Homo sapiens: one gene and its partner. The protein of the gene in region 1 interacts with the protein of each later gene in a pairwise test. Each region holds a gene or a part of one and is shown in the gene's direction. Other genes may lie near its edges. The genes, in order: COX20 and SLC10A1.

Evidence for each region.
Region 2: the proteins of COX20 (region 1) and SLC10A1 interact in binary tests that used the Homo sapiens proteins (3 or more experiments, as listed by UniProt).

Annotation. Positions count from the first base shown.
Region 1 is NC_000001.11:244,838,333-244,842,107, forward strand, and holds part of COX20 (cytochrome c oxidase assembly protein COX20, mitochondrial), read left to right. Parts: intron 1-3,611; coding exon 3,612-3,726; intron 3,727-3,775. UniProt on the Homo sapiens protein: Essential for the assembly of the mitochondrial respiratory chain complex IV (CIV), also known as cytochrome c oxidase.
Region 2 is NC_000014.9:69,790,449-69,794,273, reverse strand, and holds part of SLC10A1 (hepatic sodium/bile acid cotransporter), read left to right. Parts: intron 1-3,825. UniProt on the Homo sapiens protein: As a major transporter of conjugated bile salts from plasma into the hepatocyte, it plays a key role in the enterohepatic circulation of bile salts necessary for the solubilization and absorption of dietary fat and fat-soluble vitamins.

The DNA of each region.
Region 1 (3,775 bases):
CTGAAGCTTGGGAGAGATTAGGGTTTGATTTAGAAATCTGGAGTCATCATATAATGGCATTTAATTGAAAGCCTTGGGATACCTAGGAAGAGACTAGATTCCAAAGGAGTTAAGAGTGGCACTTCAGAATCAGGTCTGTAGAGGAGGGAACAGCAACAAAAATGTCAATGAAATAGAAAACCAGGAGACGTATTTGAAGCCAAGTAAAAGTAAAAAAGTTTCAAAAACAAATGATAATTTGTGCCACATATGCTGAGATGCGGATTTAGACTGCAGTGGATGTCTTTTAGAGGTCTTGACTGGTGTCAAGTGAAGTTCAGTGGATAGATGCCTCACTCAAGTGAGTTAAAGGGAGAATGGGAGGTTTTAAGTAGAAAAGCACACCTACACTCAGAAGTTTTGCCCCAAAAGGATGGTGGTTTAGGTGGCTGATGAGAGGAGAGGGGTGTATAGAGGATTTTTGGGTTTTTTTTTTGAGATGGAGTCTTCTTGCTCTGTTGCCCAGGCTGGAGTGCAGTGGTGCCATCTTGGCTCACTGCAACCTCCGCCTCCTGGGCTCAAGCGATTCTGCCTCAGCCTCCCGAGTAGCTGGGATTACAGGCATGTGCTACCATTCCTGGCTAATTTTTGTACTTTTAGTAGAGACAGGGTTTTGCCATGTTGGCCAGGCTGGTCTCGAACTTCCGACCTCAAGTGATCCACCCACTTTGGCCTCCCAAAGTGCTGGGATGACGGGTGAGCCACTGCACCTGGCCAAGAGGGCTGATAGTAAATTATTGCAAGTGAAAAAACTAACGATGCAAATGAAAGGGGTAGCTATAGAAGCCAAGCCCTTGAGTATGCAAGAGGGGAATCAAGTGCCCAAGTGGGAAGACTAGCATTAGATAGGAATAGGGCCAATTCATCCTTTGCAACCAGAGGAAAGAAATACGGGCACTGAAGCAGATTTAGTGGTGGAAAATCAACTGTCTCTAATTTGATCAGATCTATTTCTATACATTATTGACATTCTGGCTTGGAAATCTCTTGAGCTTTCCTTAGATTGATCAGGGTGAGCTGGTAAAGCTGCTTTTCTAAATCTAAGCTTAAAAAATGTCTGACATTTCCTTAATTTATTTTTAAGGGTTCCCGTTTGTTAGTGGCAAAGAGTTAAATCTTAAGTATGCAGGCTACTTAAGGAATAGAAGAGAAATGTTAAAGGCATGTATATTATGAACAGAATATTTCCGTATATAAATAGAATACTTCAAAGGGAGTTATGCCCGGGATCCTTTATTCATCTCCACTTCTGAGCATTTTACAGTTCAGTGTACTTAACTGTAAAGGTATACAGGCTCAAGTCGTTGCATATTCTTCCTGTTTTGATAGAAATTGCAGGGATTTATGTACTGAATCTTATTACTCCTTAGATATGTGACAACTGGAAAGCTCCCCACCAAACCCTCCAGCCTTGGTTACTTCTTAATGATGTGGTTTGGCACAATGAAAATGTCATAGGCTTTGTGGTGAAACTGACTTCTGCCTCCACTCCTGCCAACACTTATTATTAGCCTCTTAAGTCCCCGAGCCTGTTTCAGAGGTAATCTCACACAAAGGCTAGAGAATTAAAAAACATGTAGAGAGCCTGGCACTAATACCTACCTCCCCCACCAGCAGCTCTTAATTATGAGATCAACCACTATTATTTTAGACCAGAGTTTTGTTGGGGATTGGGTTTGTTTCAGAAGGCACTATTTTAAATAAGATGTGTAGCTTCTATTTAGATATTTGCCTTTAAAGTCAGCTGAGCTATTTTCCTATTGTTTGCAAATTTACTTTTATTTAAAAAAATAAAATTTCCTAAAGCAGTGTTTCCCCAATATGACAGTCATCAGAAAAAACCACCTAGAGTTTTCTAAACATAGATTCCAGTGATTGTAAATCAGAATCTGAGAGTGGGACTAGAAAATACTTAATTCTATCCTGTGGTACAAGCTGGTCTCACACTTGCATCTTTGCACCTAAGACTAGATCAAACTGGTACTAATCCTCTGGCCCCAGCATCCCATCCTTGGGGAAATAGTCTAGTTTAGAGGTAGTCCTGGACTGGAGCGCTAAGTCCAGCATTCCTCACCTGCATAACACTACCCACATGATCATATGTCCCCTGGGCTCTCAAGCTGATAGGAAAAAGTCGTCTTGCTAAATGAAATCCCCCAACCTCTTGGTAATGTGAAGAACTGTACTGCAAAGCTTTGAAGCAATCCTATGTTAGGCATGCGGGTGGGAACGGGGCCAGACAGAGGGAAAAAATGGAATAGAATGATCCGAGAGTAAATAATTCTTGCTTTATTATGAACCAAGTCACATTTTGTCTCTTCCAACAGATGCTTGAGCCAAAAAAGCAAACATAGGCAGAAATACAATTGAGAATATCTTCATGTTTCAACCTTTAATCTGACTTGCCTTTTACTATCCTTTCCCCATTTCTTCTAATCTCTTTTGCCTTACAATATATTACCTTCTAGGTATCACCTCATCCTATAGAATCCCTTCTAGTTTAATGTCCTGCCCCAAACAATACTAACCCATTGAAGATAACTATGAAACCTTTAAATGGACAGTGGTTCCTTTTAAAAGCAGCCTTACTGAAAATTTTATATACACTTAAATCAAGTAACAGTTACCGTGAGTTTTCTAAACTTTTGTGTTAACAGAAATGCCAGTTCAGCAGTGTGACTGTTACTTTTAAATGTCTGTCTTGCCGCCCTAGAGTGACAGACATCCCAGTTAAACATATTAGGAATAAGAAATACATAAATCCAATGAAGACTGTAGAAAAAGAATTTTAGCACTTGAAGGAACTTCAGTCATTTAACCCAACCCATTCATGTTATAGATTGAGACCATAGAAATAAAAGTAGCCTATAGGATACAAAAGTTAGCGGCAGATCTGAGATAAAAATCCAGCTCTTTGGATCCCCGCGTTTTTCACCACACTTAGCTGTCGTTCCCATGTATTACGAACAAAGAATCAAATATAATCAAGTGCAGCCTCACTTCACAGGCAAGAAAACAGACTAGAGTTTAATATATTGCCCATGTTTATCTTAAGGTGAAACATTTACTCTTACAACCACAGTTGATGTTAACCTAGTTAATAAAATATGAAAGGTAATTACTAGGGGAATTTTAAACGGCACTACATAAGCAAACATGACTCAAATTACTTTTTCCATTTCTGCTTCCCAAATTATTGGAGTTACTGAAGCAAGCTATGCTGCTTTCAATTCCAATGATAGGCATATTCCCAAATAAACTCATTTAAAGAGCTCATAAAATGAATTATCCTATTTCCAAGTCAGTTGATTAGCAAATTAAGATACAGCTCCAAGTTACCCTACTGCTTAAGGGTTTTCCGGTCCAATTTGTAAGGTTTTCGGATTTAAAGATTCAGACTGCATACCAAAGGTGGACAAAGACAACGCAAGCTGATTTAGGTTGTCACGTGGCACATACTCTAGTTTAAACCCTCAACTACAAGAAAAGAAATGGTGTATTGTCATTTTTGCCAAAGCACCCCAAAATGAAATACTTTCTTACTCAATCTAGGTTCTTTTTTTTCATTCTAGTCCCTTAAGCTCCTAGGATTTTTAGATGTTGAAAATACTCCCTGCGCCCGGCATTCAATATTGTATGGTTCATTAGGATCTGTTGTGGCTGGCTTTGGACATTTTTTGTTCACTAGTGAGTATCTGTATTTTTTATTTCTCTATGTACTAAAAAAAGCATTTCT
Region 2 (3,825 bases), on another chromosome or scaffold:
AAGAAGGTAAAATATCCATTTTATGTGAAATCAGCAACTCATTCCATTTTTTTAAATGTGCAAACCAAACAATACATGTCAAAGGGCCAGCTGTAGCCCAAAGGCCCCAGTTTGAGATAAGCACAATACTCTACATCCCATTTAGAACTGGAAGGAATTGTAAGACACAGATCCCATTTTACACATGAAGAGGCTGAGGTCAGAGACTTGCCAGAGGTTTCCCAGAGTTTGTGGGAAACTGTGTCTCCCTCCACTCACTCTGCCTCATAGGTGGAGTCAGTCTGGGGACAGCCTGCCATCCCAGGAGGCCAGGCCACCAAGCAGACCCCTCAATGCAGCCAGGGACGGCAGCTCCCTCCTCAAGGAAGGCCACTAGACAAGTTTCAAAAAATGTAGGTGACAAACAGGCAAGAGAAAACGCCCTCACAGTTGAAGTGAGTATGGCTTGTCAGGCACAGAGAAGAGAGTGCTATGCCAGCAGGAACTGGCCTCTTTTGACCATCCTTGCTGCCCCAAGTTCATCTGCTCCCCCTGCCACCATCGGACTCACAGCAGAGCCCAGAGCCAATGGCCATGGGGACAATGGGCTTGGACACAACCCAAGCACTTCCACAGGTCTCCCAGCCATGATGTAGGAAGCTCAACCAGGACAAGATGGAAGCCACTGGGGTCCCAGAAGTTTTCCACTTCATAGAGACTGTGTTGAGGCCCCTCACAGCTCCCTCAGCTTCTGCCTCCAATCTGTGCATTGACGGACACTCGAACGAGTCCCTTAAATGGGGTACACAGATGTCCAAAAGCAAGGTCTATGCTGTGCTCTTGGAACTTAAGCAGGAGGGAAAAATAAAAAAAACAAATGTGCCCCTTTCCCCCTGAAAGGCAACCAGGCCTACAATCTCAGGAATCTAGAGTCTGAAAAAGTCCTTGCCCGTCCCTGTCCCTTGGGGTAAACCAAGGATCACAACAGTCACGGATGCCAGCAGGCTAGGAGATGGATGTCCCTGACCTGACCCCAGGACCTGTGCAAGTGGAGGAAGTACCTGGGGATCAGGGAACATGGCTCCTGCATACCCAAGCTGACAAGGCACACCAAGTCCAAACTCCAAAACTCCTGACACACAAGCCAAAGTAAGCATGATTCCTCTGCTCTAGGTCACCAGAACAAACACACAAGTTGTGTTTGGCTTTTCCCTAAGAGAAGATCAACAGTAGCATTGAAACCCCCTGTATTCCTATTCCCAATCTCATTACCCTCCACCACTTGCCAAAGGGAGCATCCCTGGGAATTTGGTGTTCAGCATTTCCACCGACCCTTTTCAACTATTATATACGTATATATTCATAAACAAGATAGACTGCGGGATTTACGTCTTTTAATTTTGTACGAACAGTATTATACTGTCCACATCACCTAACAGCTTGCTTTTTTTTTTTTTTTTTGAGAAATAGGCATGTAAAGAAAATAGCTACCTCATGTATCTGAACTGCTGTGCAGTTTGCTTGCATTTATCCATTCTCCTGTTGTCAGATTCATGTGGATTTTACGTCTCGCTTCTGTGAACAGACTTGTGTGTGTCCCTCTGCCCACATGAGGGCATATGCAATTGAAGCAGGACTGCTGGGTCGTGGGAGTCACACATCTTTAAGAGGTCTCCAAGGTCATTGTTCACTTCACACGTTCCCTAGCAGTGTCTGAAGATCCCTGTTTCTCTGTGCCTTCATCTATATTTGGAATTGTCAGACTTTTTAATTTTTTCCAAATGAAAACAGTGAAGCAGATCGCAGTAGTTTTAAATTTGATTTCATGGGAGGCCTACCACATTTCCACGTGTGCGTTGGCCATTCATGTGTCCTCTTCTGGAAACATTGGGTCCTTTGCCTGTTTTTCTATGGGATTGTGGTTTGGGTGGGTTTTGAAAATTAATTTCTAAAGTTATTGTTTTATATATGTTGCAACAGTCTATTCACAGTTTGGAGCTGGTCTTTACACTTTGATAATAATGTCTGATAGATTGCTTATGTTAATTTAGTCAAATTTGCCAATATTTTTCCTTTGTGGTTTATGTTTTTTAGGGGTTTCTTTAAGAAATCTTTTACTATCTACAAGCCTGTCCAACATGGCAAAACCCCGTCTCTACTAAAAAATACAAAAAAATTAGCTGGGCATGGTGATGTGCACCTGTAATCCCAGCTACTCAGGAGGCTGAGGCATGAGAATCACTTGAACCCAGGAGGCAGAGGTTGCAGTGAGCCAAAATCATGCCACTGCACTCCAGCCTGGGCGACAGAGCAACACCCTGTCTCAAAAAAAAAAAAAAAATTTACTGTCTACAAAGTTACAAAGATATTACCCTGTATTTTCTTTGAAAAGTTTTAAATGTTTGATTTTCACATGGAGAGCTCCAATCAATGTAGAACTTATTTTTATGTATGGCATGAACTAATTTTATCTTTTCCATACAAATAGAAGATTCCAAGCCACGTTGAGTGAATTTTTCTCCAGGTATTTGTAATGACATCTCTCTCATAAATGCAGGGCTTGTGTCTGGATCTCTCTTCTCTTCTACGGGTCTATGTGGCTACCCTTGTACCAGTTCCACACTTTCTTAATTACAATTTTATAAGTTTTGTTATCTGAAAGTTAAGTCCCCCTACTTTGTTCTTGAAAATCATGGGCCGGGCACAGTGGCTCACGCCTGTAATCCCAGCACTTTGGGAGGTCAAGGCTGGCCGATCACGAGGTCAGGAGATCGAAACCATCCTGGCTAACACGGTGAAACCCCGTCTCTCCTAAAAATACAAAAAATTAGCTGGGCGTGGTGGCGGGCGCCTGTAGTCCCAGCTACTTGAGAGGCTGAGGCAGGAGAATGGCGTGAACCCGGGAGGCAGAGCTTGCAGTGAGCCAAGATCACACCACTGCACTCCAACCTGGGTGACAGAGCGAGACTCTGTCTCAAAAAAAAAAAAAATCATGTTAGCTATTCTTAGCCTTTTACTCTTTCACTTGAGTTTCAGTATCACCTTTCAAGTCTACAAAAAAAATTATAAGTCTGGAAGTTTTATTAAATGTGCATTACATTTATATATAAATTGAGAGACTATCTTTATAATATTGAATCTTCCCATCTATAAATATGATATAGCTTTTCTTTTACTTAGGCCTTTTTTAATACCTTTCTATAAAGGTTTGTAATTTCTTTCATAAAGATCTTACATGTCCTTTAGATGTATAAGTATTTTCTAGTTTTGTGAATATCATAAATGGTGTCTTTTAAAATATATATATATTTGTTTCTAGTATATCAGACCCAATTGATTGACTGACTGATGCTAATGTATTTAGAACCTCATACATTTTCTTACTTACCAGTTATAATGGAAAATTACTTAGATTTCTTCTGTGGACAATCCTATCATTGGCAAAACAAGAAAGTTTCATTTCTTCTTTTCCCATCCCTATACTTTTTCTATTTCTTGTTTTGCTGTGCTTACTAGGGCCTATATATAGTATAATTTATAAAACAGGTAATAATAATGACTATCTTTGCTTTATTCCTCTTGTTAAAGAAAATCCCTCTATTTACCATTAAGTTTAACGTTTAATATACTTTTTCTAATAGATTTCCTTTCAAGTTAAGGAATTTTCATTCCGTTGCTAGTGTACTAAATTTTTATTATGTAAGAACATTAAATTTTGTTGACTTTTCTATAGCTACAAAATTGTACCATTTCTTTAATAATATAGTAATATGTATTAATAGATTATCTAATGTTAAATCATTCTTACTCATCTTGTTCATTGTATTTTTTAAAACACTTATTTGC